Regions from separate parts of the Homo sapiens genome. Here region 2 is linked to region 1. The links come from fine-mapping of genetic effects on gene expression. Tissue or cell type: blood mononuclear cells. Region 1 holds a variant in brackets; the other region holds the start of a gene. Each region is shown on its reference strand, or each on the opposite one.

Region 1 (11,575 bases):
TATCCAGGCATGGTAAGCCACCTATTGACTGATAACAAGTTGTAGGTGAATCACATAAGAGAAGAATAAAGCCCAAGATCTCCTTGACAAATCAAAATTCAAAGGGAGGGTAAATATGTACAACTATTATGTATTCATAATAATTAAAAATAAAATATTTTAAAAAGGGAGAGTGTTATATATATCTATCTAAATTTCTATATATTAAGTAAAAAAAGTATGACTACTTTTGTATAATCTTTAAACAATACACAGAATTTAAATGTTCTTATTATCTCTGTAGTTTCTATCTCATCCAGTCTCTGAGAAACCGAAAAAATGGAGAGTCTTTAACTGAAAGATGCTAGAGTCACCTCAGTGGCCATTTGAAGACCCACTGTATCTTCTGTGCCTTGAAAAGAAACCCTGGGTGATCTGTTCTTTGTCCACCTTAGTTGTATATGGGGTGAGGGGGGTGAGAGATGGTTTGAACATTTTCATTTAGCTGAATTGGATATAACTGAAGAAATAAAAAAAGAATAGATGCTGAATGAAACAAGAGGAACAGACATCCAGAAGTGAGGCACCTTGTGACTGACCGCTACCTGACCTGACACATCACACGCCATACACACAATAACTGGTTTCCACTTCTACTTCCTCCTTTAATAGAACATAGAAGTCTTTTTTTCTTATCCTGGTTCACAATCATCAAAATATTTTTTGGCTCTTTTCACTGGTAAAAAGTATCTATAATCTCTCCGATAAACTAAAAGCACTTTCTTCTTCAAACAGAATGTTACTGATGTGGGGAACATCTTGAGAAAATGCTCTACTTTCTAAAGTAGCCTTGTGACTGGTCTCAAGACAGAAACACTTAAATAGAATCCTATGAAGAGCCACCATCCTCCACACACATATCTTTTCATGAAATGTGGGAAGTGGGAGGCAGGAGAGGGCTTCAGAAACATTTTTGTGAGATGGTTTATGGAATGGAGTTTAGGTACACATAAACCTAGACAGACATACAAATATATACTTGTTTACCCAGGTTGAAATTCTGAACCTTCTGAAGTCTGTCATTCATGAGAAGGTACTTAATTATTCATAGACTGGTTACAAAATTTGTACTTATTTTCCAGGAAATGTAAGTAGAAAAAGACATGGTTCTGGTGTTAAATAAAACCCTATCTGTGCAGAAGACATTTGATTCATTGTTCAAAACACATTCATGCCTACAAAAATATGACTCCTGTTTAGGTGCCAAAGCTGGTCAGAGGCTGGCTTACATGCTGCATAAGTGTTTTTTGCTTCCACCCTGCTTGGATGTAGTCTGATAAATAATACTGCATGTCCATGGGCTTTAACTATATTATTAATCATCATTTAGAAAATGTACATATTTGTGTACATTTATTTCCATAAGCAATTTCATTTTTCCCATTCATCTTCCTACATTTATTAAAACACTAAAATTTTAATATGATATGAAAAATGTACATTAAAAATATTAGATTGGGGCTCCTTGGTGCTTTCCCTCTGCTTACAATTAGTGCTTTAAAAAGAATAAATACTCATAATTACACATTTCTGGCTTTTCTGAAATGCTTGTCATTATTTTCATGCCACAATGTGATTTATAGCTTAAGTGAATAAGGTCCATTAAAGAGTTGAGACTGATCAAAAGCGGGAGATTTGAGTATCCAGAGGTTGTTTTCAACTTCACAAATGCCATACATTTGTTCTTTAAACCCTAACTCCCTAATTTTCTTGCTATAGCGTACAAAAAGAATAGAAACATTCAATAATTGGCCTCTTAATTATATAAAAATAGTCCTTCTCCAAAGAAGCATAACAAGAATTTTAACATAAACTTTCTCGTAATCCCTCAACTTCTCTACTAATGTATTACCAAAAATAAAATTTCAGGGCAGCCTTTCTGACTACATTGTTTAAACCAATTCAACATAGCATATGGTCTCCACACACAAAAGTATAGGAAATACAAGTTGTTAATAAGATGTTGTGTTATATGACAGGTTGCCAATGCTCATGCAATACCCACTGGATAACAGCTATCTAACTTTAAGATATTAGATTTGTTTTAAATCAAAAGAAACTTAGCCTAAAGTCATTTATGCTGACCTAGATGCAGCCACAGAAAATCAGCAAGTGAGAGATAGAGGAATGTTTGGTACAAATAAGGATAATTACCTGCAAATTAAGAGGTAATCAGTTTTCAACACGAAGAGCCAAAGGACTACTCTTGTATTACTATCTCCACCATTCTCTCCCAGAATCCTAACTCCGAAACTGCAGACCAAAAGTCTATGGGAAATTGGTAATTTAATGAGACAATAAACATTTAAGAACTATAATGACAGTAGTCTGCCTCTTTGAAGGAAGATGTAAAAGGATATTTTCTGTGACTGCTGAGATAATAATCATGTTTGAAGTCTATTGACTTCAAGGGATTTCTGGTAGGTGCTTAGCTAGCACCTACCACCAGAATTCCCAAGTATACCAGGAGGGGCTTAAATATAAAGTATTTGATTGTTTTCTCATGTTAAGTCTACAATATCAAGAAATAAAGAGTGTTGTTTTGAAGAAATCAAGCAACTGAAAGCATTTCAGGTGTTTCATAAGTCATCAGAATTCATCTGTGTGATAGGCACAGTTCAGTTTTACTCTTCTAATCAAGATGTTGTTGATTTTCAAGAAGCTAATATAAAATACAGCATAATTTCATGCAATTTTTAAGGTGCATGCCTCTATCTTAAATATCCAGATAAATGGTATATCGGATACACTTTTGGCTGCAATTAAGGAAAGCTCTAACAATGGGGTTAAATTATAAGGAAATTTCTATTTTGCTTAACAATAAGTCTAAAAATGTGTTCAGTATCACAATAGTATAATCAAAGTCTTTGATTACCATAACCTTTGGACTTGATCACTTTGATGTGTTACCTTTTCACTTCCATGCTCATTGCTTCATGGTCCCAAAAGGGCTGCTGAAGTTCCAGGAATCATATCCAGCAGCAAGGCAGGAAGATGAGGTAAAGAATGTCATTAAGCTTCTCTCCTCTTACGCTACTATCTTTAGTAAAAAAAGCAAAGGTTTTTCCAGAAATCCCCAGAAACTCCCTCTTAAATTTAACTGGTCAAGACTGTATCACATGGTCACTTTTAGTAGTAACATGATTGAAAATAATATATTTGGCCCTTTCAGCTTTTATAGAGGAAAGTGGAAAGGGGCAAAGGTGTTGTTAATGGCTTTTATGTCAGCCAATCGCCAAGGTCTGCTAAATTAGAATAAGGTAAATGCCAATAGCCTGATAATAGGGTTTCGCTAATTGAAATAAGAAATAAGGAGCTCCAGTTGCACAATCGGTTAGCAAGTTGTACTTATATAAAATAAGGAATAAACAAATCTTTTCTATACAGGATGGAGGAGTTAGAAAAAGAAGCTATTAGCTTTCCTGTAGCTCCTTTGATCCCTTTTATGTCCTGTTACCACTGGGTTTGAACCAGTCTCCCTCAAATTGGTATTTTATTTTATATTTTTTGAGACAGTCTCACTCTGTCGTCCAGGCTGGAGTGCAGTGCACGATCCCGGCTCACTGCAACCTCTGCCTCCTGGGTTTCAAGCGATTCTTCTGCCTCAGCCTCCCGAGTGGCTGGGATTACAGGTGTGTGCCACCATGCCTGGCTAACTTTTTTATTTTTAGTAGAGACGGGGTTTCACCACGTTGGCCAGGCTAGTCTCAAACCCCTGACCTCAAGTGATCAGCAGCCTCCATTTCCCAAAGTGCTGGGATTACAGGAGCGAGCCACCATGCCCAGCCTAATTAGTATTTTAATAATAGATTATACCTCAAAATAATTATTTTATACAAAACAGTAATGTGAATGAGCAAAATACAAATATATAAAACAGCATAAATGAATCTCATATTCTTGAGTAGGAAAGAAAGACACAAACAAGTACATGTTATGATTTTATTTACATAAAGTTCAAAGGCAGGAAAAATTAATGTGGTAATAAAAGTCAGACAGCAGCTTTTTTTGTGGAGACAGAGTGTGACTGGAAGAGGATATGAGGGAGACTTCTAAGATACAGTATTATTCTGTCTCTGGATATGGGTCCTGGGTTTTTTTTGTTTTGTTAAGATCTGTTAAGCTATACATCAATGGTCTTTGCATATGTATATGTGCATATACAATATTTCAATATAATTAAAACAAACAAAAATGTAATAAGAGAATCACTTGCTTTGATTTATTATGGCTGAGTACCACTAAAATAATAAGATTTGGAAATTTTAATATTTAGGTATTTGGGGACCTATCTCCATATATTGCCTGTATAAGATGAAAGCTAGTTATCTCTCAAATCTGATGGATTGATTTCATCTCAATTGGTTGTTCAAGGTGAATTATTTGGATGAAATAAAAATAAATCAATAAATACACACACATACGTTCACATGTATATGGATGTCTGTTTAGGAATTGTTAAAGTTCTGCTCTAAATATTTTTCGTTCCCACAGAATATTCACAGAAAACTTGATCCAGTTGAGGTTGCAAGTTTTAAACTTTAGCTCCAAGAGGCCCGCAAACATACTTTCTTGTATAAATTTCTGTGCATAGTAGTAGTATCTTCTACAGAAGGAATGGTGTTTTCTGCCAAGTTGAATTAAGTGCACAGAGCATGACTTTTCAGGGAACACTGTAACTATTGTATTACATGGTGAAAACACTGCTACTTATATTTTCACTGCAAAAATACAGTAGTCTTCAAATATATTCATGACTTACATAGAAAAGGGCTAGAATTCAGTAGCCCTAGCCAGTGTCAAAGTTCATTTTATACCATTTTATGAAAAATAGTAATTAATTTAAATCTCCAGATAAATGTGCCTATTTATATGTAGACATGACCTAGCAAGGAAAACTATATAACACAAGATGTATGATAGCAAGGAAGCAAGTCTTCTAAAAACTGGGTCTGATTCTGTAATCCACACAGAATCTTGTATGAATTAACTATCCAGGAAGGAAAACTAAGAGCTACATTCTAGTTTTCAAAGATAGAAAAAAGTCTTAGGAATCATGGGGAAGAAGAAACTGCTGAGATGTGAAATACAGTGGGTTAAAGAGTATTCTGTAAAAGACAATGTGGTAGAAGATAAATAAGCAGATTTATAATTTGTTCCTATGAACCTTCTCTACTTGCAACTTGCTAAAAGTCATGTTTTAATTAACTGGACAGGGATCCCTTTCTTCTCAGCATAGCTCCAAATATGTCCTTGGCATATTTAAAACTGCATAAAATAAGCAATAATGCCCTGACAATTCTGGCTTCAAAAACTGGCCATTTTATCCCTGAGTAGTTTTCCTGAAATGAAGGGCCAGCACTCTCAAGGCAGGCTTTTGACTCCTGTACCAAACTATAATTCACTTCTAACCTATAAACCCAGATAGAGAGTAGTGGAATGAAGGAGAGCTTTCTAATATCATATAAATCTATAAAATAGAGAGTCTTTGGTAGGAGCAAATACACATCATAAAATTATGTCCTCTACCTTTAGCAGCTGGGAAACATTACACACTACCACAATTCAATGGTGCCCTTTTAATTGCACATGCTTAAACAAAATACCGCATTATAATTACATTTGGCATTTCAAAGAGTCAAGAGTTCAAAACTGGAATGTGTTAGAATGAGAAAAATTATAACCAAATATCCCACATCAGGATGCAGCTTTTTGGACAAGCACAGTAATTCAGTTTCGGTATTTCATAAAAAGTGGTTTATTTCACTTTGCAATTTTCCATTTATTAGAAAATATCATTCATACAAAACAATATATAAATGCATATATTGACTTAAATAATTTTAGTAAATGATGCACCTATGTGTCCACTGCTGAGGTTAAGAAATAGAGACTGGCCAGTTTTTTCCAAATCCTCTATACATCTTCCCAATTATATCACCTTCCCATCCTACAAACAGAGGTTTTCGTCATTTTGACTTTTATAATAATCATCCCACGTTCTTTCGGCTTTAAATGATTTTACCACTTATGGATATATTTCTCCTATTTTTGAACCTTATGAATATGAATTCCTACACTATAATGTCTATGTCTTACTTATTTCATTCAATATGAGGTTTGGGTAGATTCACTGGGCAAAGCTCACATGTAACTGTCTCTCATTCAGTTTCCCTGCTGAACAGTGTTCCACCTTAAAACCAGTCTACAATGTATTTTCCATTCTACCATTGTCGGACATTTTGGTTATTTCCTGTAATATGTTATTAATTTTTATACATTTATTCCAGGAGTGAAATCCTTAGATCATATATTATGAGCATATTCAAACTTCCTATGAAATGTTGATCTATTTTTTAAATGTTTGGGCCAATTTATACATCATACCACCAATATTCATAAGTTCCTGTTGCTCCACATATATGCCAACATGACAGTGTCAGATTTAGTTTTTCACCTAAAGATTGGGTAAGACATGGTAACTCTTGTGGTTCTAACTTGCTTTTTTATTGCTAGTGAAGTTAGGCATCTTCTCATATTCCATAGTTTGAATGTAAGTGAGTAGAGTACAATGAGATATTTTGAGAGAGAGAAAGAGACCACATTCACCTAACTTGTATTACAGCATAACATTTAATTATTCTATTTTATTATTAGTTATTGTTGTGAATATATTACCCTGCCTACTTTGTAAATTAAACTTTATCATAGGTATGTATTTATGGGAGGGAAACATAGTGTGTACACACACACACACACACACACACACACACGGTTTAGTAGCATCCTCAGTTTCAGTCGTCCACTAGGGATCTTGGAACATATCCCCTGAGGATAAGGGGGAGACCACTGTATTGAGAATTTTGTGTTTCTTTTGAATTGTTAAACAT[G/C]TTAGTCTTTGTCTTGCTTTTTTGTTCTGGATACTTCTTTTTTAGGAACTTTTAAGTATAAAATCAGCTTCTTTAATAGACAGAGGACTAGTTGAGTTGCCTATTTATCTTGAAATTCTCTGTTATTATTCTTTTGATATCTTTGGATTTTGTAACGAAATCCTCTCTCTCTTTCCTAGTATTGGTAATTTACATCCTCTATTTTTTTCTTTGTTAATCATTGTAGATATTTATTAAGTTTATTGGTCTTGCTTTTTTTTTTTTTAAAGCACAATTTAAAAAATTTGTTCATTGGCCAGGCGCGGTGGCTCACGCCTGTAATCCCAGCACTTTGGGAGGCGGAGGTGGACAGATCACGAGGTCAGGAGATCGAGACCATCCTGGCTAACACGGTGAAACCCCGTCTCTACTAAAAATACAAAAAATTAGCCAGGCGTGGTGGCGCCGCCTGTAGTCCCAGCTACTCAGGAAGCTGAGGCAGGAGAATGGCGTGAACCCTGGAGGCGGAGCTTGCAGTGAGTTGAGGCCTGGCCACTGCTCTCCAGCCTGGGGGACAGAGAGAGACTCCGTCTCAAAAAAAAAAAAAAAAAAAAAAGAAAAGAAAAGAAAAAGAAAAATTTGTTTATTGTTTTCTGTTTTCAATTTTAACAATTTCTGTTCTTATATGTATTACAAGATGCATTGCTTAACGACAGGGATATGCTCTGAGAAATGCATTGTTAGGCAATTTTGTTGTACAAACATCAGAGTGTATTTACACAAACCTAGATGGTATGACCTCCTGCACATCTGATATAGCACTAGGCTATATGGTATGCCTATTGCTGCTAGGCTACAAACCTATACAGTATGTTGCTCTACTGAATACTGCAGGCAACCACAACAGAATGGCACTTGTGTATCTATGTTTAGATACACAGATATAGCAAAGTTCATGCAATGCACTGGGACCTACAATGTCAACTAGGTGATAGGAATTTTCCTGCTCCATTATAATCTTTTGGGACTACTGTCGTACATGCAGTCCATCATTGACCAAAATACTGTTGTGACACATAACTGTATTTTCTTCTGCTTCTTATTTTACTATTGTTTTTATAGTTTCTTATACCGGAAATTGAGATTACAGAGACTTTCCTCCTTTTATAATGTATGTATTTACTGTTACACATCTTCCCTTTGTGCATTGCTTTAACTAAATTTGACTTAATTTGTTATGTTGCATTTTCATTCAAAATGTGTTCTAATTTCTCTTGAAACATTTTCTTTGACTCATATTATTTTGAATCATGAGCTTTAATTTTCAAATATTTGAAGGTTTTGTTTTTTTCTTTTGTTATTTATTTCTAGTATAATTCCATTATGGTCAGAGAACATACTTTGTGTGATTTCAATTATGTTTGTTAATGTGTGACTATGAGCCAGAATATCATCTATCTTGATGAATATTCCATGTGTCCCTCAAAATAATGTGTATTTTGCTATCTTTGGATAGAATTCTATAAAAATCAAGTAGATAAAGTTGGTTGATGGCATTGTTTTGTTCTTCTATATCCTTGCTAACTCTGTTAACTAGTCCTTTCTGTTACTAAGAAAGAAATGTTGACTGTCCAACTATATTTGCTGATATGTCTATTTTTTCTTTCAATGCTGTAGGTTTTTGCTTTGTGTGTTTTGAAGATCTGTGGCTTAGCTCATATAAATTGATAATTCTTATGTCTTCTTGGTAAATTAAGCCTTTTTATTATGTAATGTCCATCTTTATTCCTGGTAATCTTTGCTCTGAGTCTGCTTTGTGATATTAACATAGTCATTCCAGTTTTTGTTTGATTAGTGTTTGTGTAGTGATATGGTTTGGCTGTGTCCCCACCCAAATCTCATCTTGAATTCCCACATGTTGTAGGAGGGACCCAGTAGGAAGTAATTGAATCATGGGGCAGGTCTTTCCCGTGCTGTTCTAATGATGGTGAATAAGTCTCACAAGATCTGATGGTTTTATAAGGGTAAGTTTCTTCGAACAAGCTCTCTCTTTGCCTGCTGCTATCCACATAAGATGTGACTTGCTCCTCCTTGCCTTCTGCCATGATTGTGAGGCCTCCCCACCCATGTGGGACTGTAAGTCTATTAGACCTCTTTCTTTTGTAAATTGCCTAGTCTTGGGCTCATCTTTATTAACAGTGTGAAAAGGACTAATATATGTGGTATATTATTTTTCATCATTTTACTTTTAACCTATCTGTGTAACTATATTTTAAGTGGCTCTCTTTGCAGCATATAAGTAATTTTTAAAATCACTCCAACCATCTCTGTCTTTTAATTGGTGTGTCCAGACCATTTATGTTTAAATTAATTATTGATGGGTTTAGATTTAGGACTATCATTTTATTTTCTGGTTTTGTACTTATTCCCCTTATTTTATATTACTCTGTTTCCTATTTTAAGTCTTCTTTTGGGTAAAAGAATTCAAGATAAGAAGACTAACTTATTACATTTGCTTTGGTCTGAATATTTGTTTCCCCTCAAAGTTCACATGTTAAAATCCTAACCCCCAAGGTGATGGTTTTAAGAGGTAGGATCTTTGGGATTTGATTAGATCACAAAGGTAGAGCCCTTATGAATGAGATTAGTGTACTCTTATTTTAAAAAAAGGCTTAAGGGAGGTTGTTTGCCACTTCCATCATGTGAGGATACACTAAGAAGGTGCCATCTATGAGCCAGGAAACAAGCTCTTAGCAGACACTAAATCTGCTACCCCTTGATCTTGGACTTCCCAGTCTTGAGAACTCTGAGAGATAAATTTCTGTTGTTTATAACCTACCCTGGTTTATCGTATTTCTTTAGAGAAGCCCAAATGAACTATGACAACTTTTCATTGAAATGTTGCTCTTTCTTTTCTTCTCCCTTAATTCCTGGAGTTTCAAGTGTTTTGTTTCAGAAACAATTTCCCTTCTATCTAAAAACCTTCCTTTAGAAATTCTTTTAAAGCATGACTGATAGATACAAGTTCTTTCAGTTTTCTTTCATCTGAGGACATTTTTAATTTTATATCTAAATGAAATATCCTATCTAAATGAAATATCCTTCAGTAGTGAGAATTTCACTACTGAAGGATATTTCATTTAGATATAAAATTCTGGATTAAACATAATAAAACATTTTCTTAATTAGGAATTGACAGTTTTTTCTTTCAGCATTTCTTCTTGTCTGCCATGATTTCTGATGAGAAGTATTGAAGTTTCTAAATCATTCTTCCCCTATAGTTAATGTGTCACTTTTCTTTGGCTGCTTTAAGCACTTTTTCTTCGTCTTCGGTTTTCAGCAGTTTTATTATGATATGTCTGTGCATAGATTTCTTTGAGTTTATCCTATTTGGGATTTGCTTCACTTCTTTTATACATTTTCTAAAAAATAAAGTTTGGAAGATTTCTGTCATTATTTTTTATTTTTTTCATCATTACCCTATCTTTCTGAAACTCCAGTGGCATGGTTAGATCTTCAGGTATCATCCTGTTGGTCCTTGAGATTTTGTTCTTTTGTAAGTTGTTTTCTTTGTCTTGTTTCGGTTAAATGAGTTTTTTCTCCTGATCCGTCTTCAAGTTCACTGACTCTGTGCTCCGTTATCTCCATCCTGCTGTTGAACTCAGTGAGATTTTTATTGGAGGATAGAAGAAGGTGTTTATTGTATTTTCCCATCCTAAAATTTCAGTTTGGTTCTTTATATCTTTGATTTCTTTGCTAAAGCTTTTTGTTTAACCTTTGTTGCAAGAGTGTTCACAATTGCTTCTGGAAACATTTGTATAATAGCTACTTTAAAGTCTTTGTCAGCTAATTCCAACATCTATTGTCATCTCAGCTTTGCTGTCTGTTGATTGTCTTTTCTCATGTGAATTGAAATGTTTGTGCTTCTTTCTATGCTGAGTCATTTTTGACATTTTGTGAATTACTTCAAGATTCTTTGGAGTCTTGTTTAAATTCTACGCAGATTGTTAATATTTTGTTTCAGTAGGTTTGGGCCACAAGTTTTTGTTTGTTTGTTTCTTTTTTTGAGATGGAGTTTCACTCTTGTTGCCCAGGCTAGAGTGCAGTGGCATGATCTCGGTTCACTGCAACCTCTGCCTCCTGGGTTCAAGTGATTCTCCTGCCTCAGCCTCCCAAGTAGCTGGGATTACAGGTGTACACCACCGTGCCAGGCTCATTTTGTATTTTTAGCAGAGACAGGGTTTCACCATGTTTGTGAGGCTAGTCTTGAAGTCCTGACCTCAAGTGATCCACCCTCCTCAGCCTCCCACAAGTTCTAACCCACCCCCTATAGACTGTGGTTCCAGTGTTAGTTCAGTGTTCCAAACCTTTGTTGTGCTGTTTGCTCTCTCCTGGGTATGCACTCCACAGTGTTCAGTCTGGGACCTAGACTATCTGTTAGTTCAGTGCTCATAGATCTTTGATGTGCTGTTTGGGGTCAGATCTATGCATATGCAGGTTACATGAAAGTCCTATCATTCCTAAAGGACTTTCTTGGGTCACTTTTCTGAGCTCCTTTCTCTCCACAGTCTCCCCAGTACTTTGGCTTCCTGTGGCTTCATTTTTTGGTGGGCTGTCTCATGAAATTACTCTTGTCAAACTCTGTAATGCATTTCTATGATGGAGCA
Region 2 (11,575 bases), not on the chromosome of region 1:
TGATGTCCCCACCGTACTCAAGTTTGTCTGTTTCCAGAAGCTAAGGTCTTAGCCTCTCTACAGTTAGAAAGTCCTAGGTTTGAGTCTCGACTCTGTCCATTATAGCTGTGTGACCTTGGGCAAGTCACTTTTCTCTCTGGGCCTCATTTTTTTTCTTCGTCTAAAGAAATTAGCATCTGTCTCATAATGCCATGGGGAATCAATGGGAAAATACAAAGAAAGTGCTTAGCAGAGTGCCAAGGAGGGACAGTGTGCATGCTCAGCAATTGAAGGCTGCCAAGTTCCTGTTATCATCAGGGGCAGTGTTCCATCCATCAAAAGGGCTAAGAATAGTCTTAGCCCGGCCAGGCGCGGTGTAATCCCAGCATTTTGGGAGTCCGAGGCAGGTGGATCACCTCAGTTCAGGAGTTCAAGACCAGCCTGGCCAACATGTCAAAACCCCGTCTCTACTGAAAATACAAAAATTAGCCAGGCGTGGTGACGGGCCCTTGTAATCCCAGCTACTTGGGAGGCTGAGGCAGGAGAATCACTTGAAGCCGGGAGGCAGGGGTTGCAGTGAGCCAAGATTGCGCCACTGCACTCTAGTCTGGGTGACAGAGCGAGACTCTGTCTTAAAAAAAAAAAAAAAAAGGAATAGTCTTAGCCAGTGGGGGTAGGGTGAGGAATAAGTAAGTTACTGTGGGCTAAGCTTTAGCCCAGTGCCCAGCACATATTATAAACTTCATAAGCAGTTGCTATTTTAAAGGGTTTTTGTTTTGTTTTGTTTTGTTTTTGTTTTTGTTTTTGAGACAAGGCCTCGCTCTGTCGCCCAGGCTGGAATGCAGTACTTTTAAAGTTCTGAACCCTGTTGGAGGCCAATATGAGACCATGGGGGACCCCAGGCCCCAACTGGCAGTGGCTCCAGGCACTGCCTCCGTGCCATTTGGCTATTATTAGGCCCGGCGTCCTCATCTCAAATCCAGATGGGGATCGAGAAGGGCGGGTAGGGCAGGGCCTGGCTGGCGGAAGGCTGGGAACACGGCTTGGAGGCTGGGTTTGGGTTTGGGCCCCACCCTGCCTGCCTTCCCTTGCTTGCAGCTGGTCCAGCCGCCACGTCTACACTTGGCTCTGAGGTTGTTGCAGAGCACTCCCTCCCACCGTGGCCGCCTCCTCTGGGAAGATGCAGAGCCCTTCTGCAGCCTCAGCACTTTTCTCCCTGCCCCAGAGAGGCCAGGCCTGCGTGGAAACTCTGAATTGGACACTGCGTGCCTTCAGAACCGGCAAAGGAGCCATCCACCCCGCTGTCTACAGGTCTTCATGCCTCCAGTGAGGCTTACTGGATCTGCTGAGGGGGAAGGGCCTATATACCTGGGTTCAAATCCCTTCGCTACCACCAACATGCAGTGTCAACTTGGACAAATGACTTCCCCTCTCTGAGCCTCAGTTTCTTTGCCCATAAAAGGGACAGAACATTAGCATCTGCTTTATAGGGCTGTGGTGATGGTTACATGAGTGCATGGTATGCCATAGGCACTCAATATGTGTCAGTTATTTCATGCTTAAGTGTGCCAGGCCCTGAGGAGGAAACAAAGTTTTGAGAGGTTGAGAATCTGGGATGCAGAATGGCTCTGCTCCTGATTTGCTACACTACCTGAAGCCTGTCCCTTGTCCTCTCTGGGACTCAGTTACCTATTTGAACCATAAGGTGGGTATCTAGGACTCTGTGATGCCAAGATTCAGGTGCTATGTTCAGAAGTAGAGAGAAGGGTTTGCTGGGATCCCACACTGACAGGTTGGTAAAATATTCATTCTCGGACTGGACTCTGGAGCCAAAATACCCTCAGCCCCTGAGCTGCTCCAGATACTCCCTACTCTGCCAGTCCAGAGCTGAACCTGGAAGAATCTAGACCCTTCTTGTTACAGTTTTTTGCCCTAGGAGGGCCTGAAGGAGGCGAGTCAAACCCCCTCATTTTACAGATGGGCAGACTGAGGCCCAGGTCTCCCCAGTGCTCAGGCGTCATCCAAGTGGAGCTTCCAAATGGTGGATGGTAGAATATGGTGATTAAGAACAAATGTTCTGGCCGGGCGCAGTGGCTCACGCCTGTAATCCTAGCACTTTGGAAGGTCAAGGCAGGCGGATTTCTTGAACCCAGGAGTTCGAGACTAGCCCCGGCAACATAGGGAGACCCTTGTCTCTACAAAAAATAAAAAAATTAGCCAGGCATGGTGGCACGTGTCTGTAGTCCCACTGTGAGCCTGGGAGGTCAAGGCTGCAGTGAGCCATGGTTGTGCCACTCCACTCCAGCCTGGGCGACAGAGTGAGACTCTGTCTCAAAAACAAAACAAAACAAAAAAAAAAACAACAAAAGAACGAGGGTTCTGAGCCTGTCTCCTTATCTGTATAATGGTGGTCCTACCTCACAGGACTCAAGCTGTGAAGGTCATAGTGGTAACAAAATTGCCACACATGTAGTATAAGCATGATCAGGAGCCAGTGTCCAACCCATCAGGTAGCAATTACATAGTGTCCCACCATGAGCCTAGACCCCCACTCCCTGCGCCCAGGCATCAGGGACTCCCAGAAGTCTAAAGAGGTCCAGGCTGGCACATCCAGAACTCTCTCCTTCCTGTTCCAGCCCCTTGCCTCTCCTTTGTCTGTGAGGCTGGGTCTCCTGGAATTCACTGCTGCCCAGTGGGCATCTGAGGCCCCTTCTCCTCCTGCAGGGCCAGAAGTTTGCCTGGCACTGTTGCCCAGAGAACACAGCGGCTGGATGACATCCTGGAGATGATGGCCTTGCCAAACTGGTTTCCCAGCAGGTCCTCAGTCCCACTCCGAGGGCTGCTGGCCATGACCTAGGACGCATCCAGTTCTGCACATAAGGAGGAAGGTCATACCCCTTGGATCCAGCCAACCCCAACAAGAACCATCCACCTCTAGGGGCTCCATTCTCCAGCCTCACCTGCCTGTCTGTTGCCCAACAAGGTCGTCACAATCCTACTTCCGTTCCTTTGCTAATGCTGTTCCCGTCTCCAGAATGACAGTGCTGTCCTGGGGAGAGAGGCTTAGAGAGCCCAAGGCACAGCTCCTCCATTGTGCATATGAGCAAGTTGAAGCTCCAAGAGGGCCAACCCTTACCTAGGGTTGGAGCCAGGGGTAAGACACCCATCACCCTTCTTGCCTCCTGACCCAAGGCCTGGGCTTTCTCTGAAGGACCCTGACTGGGTGGAGGGTTAGCCAGGGTGACTTAGGGATGCAACACAGACAGCTTGGTAAAATAGTCATTCTCAGACTTGAGCTCTGGAGCAAAATATTACCCCTAGCCTCTGAGCTGCTCCAGCCACTTCCCATTCTGCCTTTCCAGGGTTGAACCTGGAAGAACCTAGAGTAGACCCTTTCTGTGACAGCCCCTTGCCCTAGGAAGGCTTGAAGCAGACCAGTCTAATCACCTCATTTTACAGGGGGCAGGCTGAGGCCCAGGCCTCTCTGGTGCCCACAAGATACATTCATCCTGCTCATCTGGCATTCAGAATCCTTGGCAAAGAGAACCACCCACATTTCCTGCTCCGCCCACAGCCTATCCTCCTCCTTTTCCCAGACTATTGGTCTTTGCTCACACTGTTCCTCTGCCACAAATGCCCTTTCATGCCTTTCCCCCTCTTCTATGTGGGATGAATTTTAAAAATTAGCTGGGCGTGGTGGTGTGTGCCTGTAGTCCTAGCCTCTTGGGAGGCTGAGATGGAAGGATTGCTTGAGCCAGGAGTTTGAGGCCATGGTAAGCTGTGATCATGCGACTGCACTCCAGCCTGTGGGACACAGCAAGACCCTGTCTCCAAAAAAAATAAAATAAAATAAAAACAAGTGTGACACACAGTTTATACACCACTTCCCTAAGAAGTCTTCCAGAGCTTCCCCCATCCTAGTGGCAGCAAAGTGGAGGGAAGGGGCTTCAGCATCAGGCAGAATTCCACTTTAGTCTGAATGCCTTTACTAGGCCAAGGTGCCTTCACCTCCCTGAGCTTCAGCTTCCTCTGTCGAATCAGAGTGTACCTATCTTGCACAGTGGTCACCTGGCAGTAGTGGGAGCCCCACGTCTGACATGCAACAGGTGTTCAGCAAATGCTGGGGCCCTCGTCACGGGATGTTTACTCTTTCCTCGGCTGTAGCTGTAAACTTCCCTAGCACTGTACCGGACTGCCCTTTGATCTCTAGATCACCCCCACTCCCTTGCAGAGAGGAAGACAGAGGCAGGCGGGTATGTCTGGAGGTGGACCCAGGCACTAAGGGCTTGAAGGGGCAGGACCCACACATCCCTTCCATAGGGCCAAGGGCTAGTGAGCGCATGTGCCAGACAGTAAATCCAAGCATGGAGGAACTCACCTGTACCATTCCTCCTAGCCTACAGTAGGGCAGGGAGAAAGGAGGGCATTAGCACAAAGCAGGCCATTCATTGGAGCTGGTGACCGCCATTCAGGCAGGCCCTGAAAATCAGAGGTGGCCTAGGTGTGCCCTGCATGAAGGGGAGGTCCCAAGGGACGCGTGAATTTTGAAGTATTCAGAATTGGTCTTAGAGGGCGCCTGACCCTCGTTCTGGATAATAACATGGCATCTCGCCCAGGTAGAGAAAGCCTAGGACCTTGAAATATGTCCTCCGAAGTGAGCTCTGTTTGCCTCTCCTGCTGTGTAGCATTGACAAGTCGCTTTCTTCTGTGCCTTGATTTTCTTTTTTCTTTTTTTGAGACAGAATCTTGCTCTGTCGCTTAGGCTGGAGTGCAGTGGCACAATCTCGGCTCACTGCAACCTCTGCCTCCAGGTTCAAGTGATTCTACTGCCTCAGCCTCCCAAGTAGCTGGGATTACAGGTGCATGCCACTTGCCCGACTAATTTTTGTATTTTTAGTAGAGACGGGGTTTTTGCCGTGTTGGCCAGGCTGGTCTCGAACTCCTGACCTTGGGTGATCCACCTGCCTTGGCATCCCAAAGTGCTGGGATTACAGGCATGAGCCACCGCACCTGGCCCGTGCCTTGGTTTTCTGATGTGTAAAATGGGACCACTTCTCAGGGGTGTGGGGATGAAATGAAATGACACATGGAAAAGACTCTCAGTGTGGAGACTGGGCCTTTCCTTAGATGGGGGCTGGGGGGTGTCACAGAGGACCTGAACCGGGGCTCTTCTGGGTTAACAGGCTGAAACCACCTCCCCAGAATCCCACATTATAGTGGTTAAAAGCAGGGTCTGGACTCAGAAGGTGCTGGGTATGAATCACAGCTTTACTACTTATCAGCTGTTGTCCTCATCTGTAAAATGGGGCAATAGTCATGGTCTCATGTGCTTGTTATGGGCATTATATGCCTGGTACATGGCAAGTACAAAATAAATGATTTGTTATTGTTTTTATTTGACAGGACTCCAGACCCCATCCTCCCAACTCCACCCACTTTAGTCTCCATGGAGACCCAAGGGCGGCTTTAGGGCCTCTGGCACTGAAGATGGAATAGCTTTGCCTTGTGGATCTGACCTCCTGGGTACCCTGGCTGATTCCTTGTTTGGTCTTGGACATGTCAGCTCTCTCTGGGCCTCAATTTCCCCCTTTTGCTGAATGACAGCCTGGACTCCATATTCCCTATTTAGGACTCCAGCGCTCCTAAAGGCAGACTCTCAGGGCTTGGAAGGTAGAAGCATGCTACAAGAAGGCAATGTCTGTTCAAAGGTGTGTGGGCTGGGGGAGGCGTGCTGTGTGATTGATTCTGCTCCACCTGAGATGGTCCCGGCACTCCAACACAGGGTCAAGGTGCTGCCAGTCACTCAGTCCCTGCTCTGAGGTGGCTCAGACCAGGTGTCCCGAAAGCAGCCTAGGGACGGCGGCCAAGCTTAAACACTGACGCGAGAAAGGGGTGGAGTCGAGGGAGGGGACGTGGTCTCAGGAACAAAGAGGAGGGCGGAGAGGGGCTGTCCTGAAGGCTCTGAGACTCCTACGACCCCAGGAAACTTACCTCGGCTCGGGGCGCCCCCCCCGACTTGGCGCAGAGCCTGCGTCCCCCTGCCGATGCCCACCCGACTCGCTAAAGCCACCGAGGCAGACGACCCCAAGACTCCCAATTTCCGACCTCCCTGGCCCGCGAGGGGCGGGGCCTTCCTCTCGGGGCGTGGCCGTCAAATTGAATTTTCCCAATGGGGCACGAGAGTGGGAGGTACCCAATCGAGGGTTGGCTGGCGCGTCGGGGCAGGGCGGGGCCAGCCGGGCTGCTGGCGCGGCTGGACGGGCAGCTCTCCGCAGAATCCAGGGGACGGTTGCTGAGCGGGCCTGGGACAGCGGGTCGCGGCACCTCCGGCCTGCGCGTGTCTAATCCGTCTGTCGGGTCCCGAAAGAGCTAAGCCGAGCCTGCGCCGGACGGGTGGGCTGGACTGAGAGGTGGGTGTGCGGACCTCGGGGGGGATCCTGGTGCTGCCCCAACGTGTCCGGGGGTGGAACCCGGATGTCTAGACAGGAGTTCTGGAACGTCCAGACCTGGGAGCCCCCACCCATACGAGAGGTCTAAGCCATGGGATAAAGTTATGAGACTGTTGGGGGAAGACGCCCCCGGATTCCTAAGAGACTCCACGCCCCACAGGGGCGCTAGTCTGTGGCGGCAGAAACCCTGGGGAAGCTGCCACAGAATCCTGAGGCCCCTCACAATGTCCGGCGACCCCAGACTGTGTGACAGGGAGATTGGAGAAGAGCAGCGGCAGGGATCTTCTTATAATCCCATGGGTGTCCTAGATTAGGCATTAGGGTCAGCTGCCCCATAGAAGAACAGACATGGGGGGAATCAGAATGTCCGCAGAACCTAAGGCTGGTGACCACTGGACAGTCTTGAAGAGGTTTAACCCAGACAGAGTAACTAGGTAAGAGGCAAGGATCCTAACAGGCAGAGATTGGGAGGTTGACACCTCTGAGCCTACCAGGATGGGAGGGGGAACAAGCAGTGACTTGAACAGGCTGGGACCCACACACCCCAACTGTGTGGAGCGGTAACCCTCACCCCCCACCCATGCACCGTATGGGGTGACTTCCCAAGTGACTGTTCTGAAGAGAGGGAAGGGATGATTGAAAGATGAATCAACAGGAGGTGGGGGGCAGGCCTGGGGCCACACATTAGTCAGTCACCATACATTAACTAAGCATCCACAGTGTGCCAGACCAGGGCCCCTCAAATTCCAGACAGACATTAGTTGGGGCTACAGGAGGAAGGAGAGATCTGCGCTGGGAGGCTGGGCCAGGATTTAGGGGTCCATTTTGATGGGCAGCACTGGGGCAAGATGGGGCTCTTGCCTCTGTCACTGAGAGTGTTCCAGGCCCTTGAGGGCACTTTGGAAGGGAGCTTCGGAAGCCGGAGATGACGAAGATTTTGATTACATCCTTCTCTGCCCTCTAAGTCTTTGGCTTCCTCCTTGCTCAGTGACAAATCCTTGGCCCTCTCCAATCTTCTCAGTTTGCCTGAAATCCAGGGGTTGGGCAGGTCAGCTTCTGAAAGCCCTTCCAGGTGGGGAATTGAATTCTGTATGAATTGGCAGGAGGTGCTGGGTGCCTGGACACCTGGCTTCAGGAGGTCTGGACAGCAGAGCTGGCTCCAAGAATCGGAAGACACAGTGTACCTTCCTATACCTGGGGGAATGACAGTGGTGGTGGCAGCAAGAACTACGGGTTCAGCCCACAGCCAGAAGCTGAGCCTGCGGAGTGGGTGGGGGCTGGGTAGGCCCTGTGGATGGGTGGGTGGGGCAGGAAACTGGAGACTGGAGTGCACCCCCTGGTGGTAAGCACAGCTTGGGTGGGTCTTGCCAGGCCCTGGCTTCTCAATCCAGGTCCCTGCCCTCCCTGTTTTGAGGTTTAGACAGGATGAGAGTCCATCCCAGGCCACACAGCAGACTGGCGGCCAAGCTGGCAGGGCTGGAACCAGAGACCCCCTACCCTGGGTTTGGTGAGTTTTCCAGCAAACCACCCTAGGGCAGAGGGCAGCTTCCAGCCAGGAGCCACATTATAGGATGGGACAGTAATGGACGCTCCTAGGTTAGAGAGGGAAAGTAAGGCACAGAGCCTAAGTGCCTGTGGTTTCTGGAAGCCCCAGCATGCCTGATTCATGTCTGTCCCCTGCAGAATTCTCTGAGCTGGTGACAGGTGCCACAGGCACTGGGGATCTCACCAGAAAGGAACCGACGGAGCTAGGGGCCAGCGAGATGGCGGACGAGGCCTTAGCTGGGCTGGATGAGGGAGCCCTTCGGAAGCTGGTAAGTGGCCCCATCACCCACTGTGGGGACAGGAAAGCCAAGCCAGAGAGGCAGGGTCAATCCAGGGTACCTCTCAGCTGACAGGAAGAAGTGATGGGGGAAAGGTCAGGAGGAGGGGGACATGGGAACAGGGGTAGGCCAGTTCCATGTGGCTGATGCAGAGGCCCTTGTGGCATGTGCCTGTCCATGCCTGGTACTGAAGCCTAGTCCCTCCCAACCCTCCACAGCCACCACCTGTTTAAACAGTAACTGCTGTAGACTCGCCCGTATGCAGCCACAGGTGTGGGGAGGCTGGATATGCCTCTCCAGAGCAATAGCTCGGGCAATGCCCACCCCTGGAAGCTGGCCCAGTGATAATGGTAGCAGCAATGATTAATAATGCCAAGGCCTGGCAGGGGGCAGGCTGGGTACTGGGTATACCATGTCACAGAATAATCACAGCAGCTCTGAAAGCCTGGGCACTGCGACTCAAGAGAGTTAAAATCACCTGCTCAAGGACACCCATCTAAGAAGGAGCTGTGCCAAAATCCCAACCCCATAGTGGGCCACGGGGGACCAGAGTCCTGGGAAAGTCAAGGCTGGACGAGGCCATAAGAGAGAGACAGGTTTTGTGGGCCCTTATGGATTCTGTGGCTTCTCATCTCATTTTTCTACTCTTGAGTCTCAGTTCCTCTACCTGTAAAATGAAGGGAGGGAGGGAGATGTGTTTGCACACAAGCTCTAGGTCCTAGAGTTGGCATGGGGACAGAATGAGGCATGGACCCAGATCTCAGGTGGAGGAAAGATGAGCCCACTCCATCCCCTTTCTTGTTCCTCTTCCTGAGAGCCCTGTCTACCTCCATGCACAGAGGCCGTAGGGCAACCCAGTGGGGCAGGGCTCCTTCCCCAACCCCAAAGGCCAGGCAGCCTGACCTGGAGGAGGGGCCAGAGGAGCTCCATCTCCTCAGTCCCTGACCCTTGTCCATGGGGGTAAATTAAAGATTTACTTTACCTAGAAGACAAGTGACCCACCCCACTCTCATACCTTCCCCCGCAGGCAGAGGCTGGAACCAACCAGCGTAGCCCAGCCACTGGGCAGTGCCCAGCTGCTGCCATGACCTCCCCAAGGCACTCTGCCTGTATGTTCTCGGACCAGCGCATTAGACTCTCTGGGTGTCTGCCTCTCCACTATCACCGCAGGATGTGTGCAGCCTGGAGGGGATGAGGTTAGGTTTCCAAAGGTGCCCGCCAGTCAGTTCGACCTTCCCTCAGGAAGTCCAAGTCCCAGTGGGGGTCGTAGAGGCAGCACAGTCCAAAAAGAGGGAATGCCAGGCCTGGTTCCCGCACATCCTCATCTCAAGGTATCCACAGGCAGGCTCAGGGTTCTTCAGCCGCCACCTCCCTCTCTTAAGCGAGGCTCGGGCGGCGCTGGAAAAGAGTTTTGGAGAGAAGCTGGAGCAGTGGTTGAATCTCTGGGAAAGGACAGATGAGAACCTGCCCCGGTCTCGGGATCGGTGCCTCTCGAAGTCTTTCCGACCCCGGGAGCGGCTCCTCCAGCACCCGGCGCCCGCCATTACTGCGCCCCGCGCGCCGGCCCGGCCCCCGCTGGCCTCGTGGCAAGAACGGGGGCGTCCCGAGCCGGGCTCCTCCCCGCGGGGCCGGGCCATATAAGGAAAAGCTAGGCCCGCTCCGCCCGCCCTGCGCCCCAGCGTCTGGCCGATTTGGGGACGCGGGCAGTCGCTTCCGGCCCCGGCTCCCGCACATTCTTGAGGATTGGGCCGGGGATGGGAGGAATGGGGACGCCTGGGGACTTGCACGCCGCGTGCCCCTCCACCACCCGCCGGGACGCCCTCTGCCTCGGTCCCGAGTTCGAGTTCGACCTCCGCCACTCAGCTGGGTGTCCTGGGGACCTTGGTTTCTTCCCTTTAGATCCGGACACTGAAGCAGGCGGTAGCGGGTGTCTTCCTACCTGGCTACCCCTTCGGCGCCTAGCGCGAGGCAGGGTGGGCGAGGCGAGGGCGGCGCCCTGCGAGGGAGGGCGGTCGCAGAACCTGCGGGCCTTCAGCGCCCCCTGGCGAGGCTTCCCTCCACCGCCGGCGGGACCCCCATGGGCAACCGGGGGAGCTGGGACTGAAAGCCTGGAGAGCCCCCTCCGTTGTGCTGTTGGGGAGACTGAGGCCCAGTGAGACCTCAGGGCCTGCCAGGCGTTCCCAACAGCGAGGGCAGAGAGTACACGGAGAGCCGGCTCCCCAGGGGGAGGAAGCACCCTCTTTCCTCCCGGGAGAATTTCACTGGGCAGTTTCGGAAACCGCCCCATCCCCTTCCCCTTCCCCCTCGGTAGACAATGGCGCTTTGTACTTCCTTCCCTCCCTCCCACAGCTCCCTCCTTACACAGCGGTGGGGCCTGGGCGGGTGGAACTCGGGACACACAGAGGAGACACTGTGGTCCAACCTTTGCCTCCAGGCCCAAAGGGAAGGGTCGTGCCAGAGGGTGACCAGTGGAATGAGGTTGTCAGTCTCCAGCCTTGCCCACCCACTTTGGGGGATCAGAGGGAGGCTCCCATTTTCCAGATGGGGACACTGAAGCTCCGGGGGTTGTGCTGTAGAGGTGGCCAAGTTCCTACATCAGGCTTTTGTCAGAGACAAGGACCCCATCTCCGAGCCCAGAGCACTGAGAATGGGGACCTAGGAGACAAAAGGCTAGCCCTTGCCCCTCTGGGCCTCTTTACCCTCTGTACAGAAGGGGCTGGACCCTCTGTCCCCTCCAGCCCCCAGCCTCCAAATGTACCACAGAAGGCTCTAGGCCTGAGACACAGCCAGCACCGGGGGCTGGGGAGTGAGCCTCATTCCCCCCGCCTCTGCTATAAGGCCTCCTTAGGCCTCAGAGCATCTCTAGTCCAGGCTAGAGGGGTCTCCAACACAGTGCCAGGATCCCTGAGGTCCCCACCATGACACACAGACCCCAGTAGCAGAGCTATCTTCAGCCTAGGGCAGGCCCTGGAGTCAGAGAGACCTGGGTTCAAATCCTGGCTCAGGTCATTTGACCATGAGCAAATCACATGTCCTCCCTGGACTTCAATCTCCTCATCTGTCAAATGGGAATAACAGTAGTATCTAGGGTTTTTGTGGGCTTAGGACAAGTAGGGGGCTCAGCACAGGGTTTGACTCACAGGCTCTCCATAAATGTTACTGATGCCTCGGGGTATCCTGCCCTTCCCATTTGCCCCCTTGTCTCTCTCCCTCCTCCTGACTGGCTAGAACCAAGTATGGGGGTGATGCTTATTGCAACTGCAGCTATGTACAGGAGAGGCCAAGTCACTGTTCCCAACCCCACCCACTGGCAAATGAAAAAAC

The links. PIP is the estimated chance that this variant, and not a neighbour inherited with it, causes the effect.
Region 2: it holds the start of SMTN, and the variant in region 1 is the best candidate, but not a certain one, in a credible set for the expression of SMTN in blood mononuclear cells (TOPMed, PIP 0.88).

The regions. Positions count from the first base shown.
Region 1 is chr3:151,935,999-151,947,573 of GRCh38, forward strand. The region is part of intron 1 of LOC107986047 (a long non-coding RNA gene); the gene reads right to left. Among named protein-coding and RNA genes, the nearest start is that of AADACL2-AS1, 14 kb to the left of the region's middle. The variant G/C (reference allele first, on the strand shown) is at 6,930.
Region 2 is chr22:31,075,068-31,086,642 of GRCh38, forward strand. SMTN (smoothelin) reads left to right here and starts at 6,251. Exons shown (of 21, transcript NM_134269.3): 1 at 6,251-6,389; 2 at 8,112-8,242. The coding sequence starts at 8,192. RefSeq lists silencers at 6,133-6,292, 9,691-9,970, 10,151-10,340 and enhancers at 9,371-9,440, 10,659-11,285.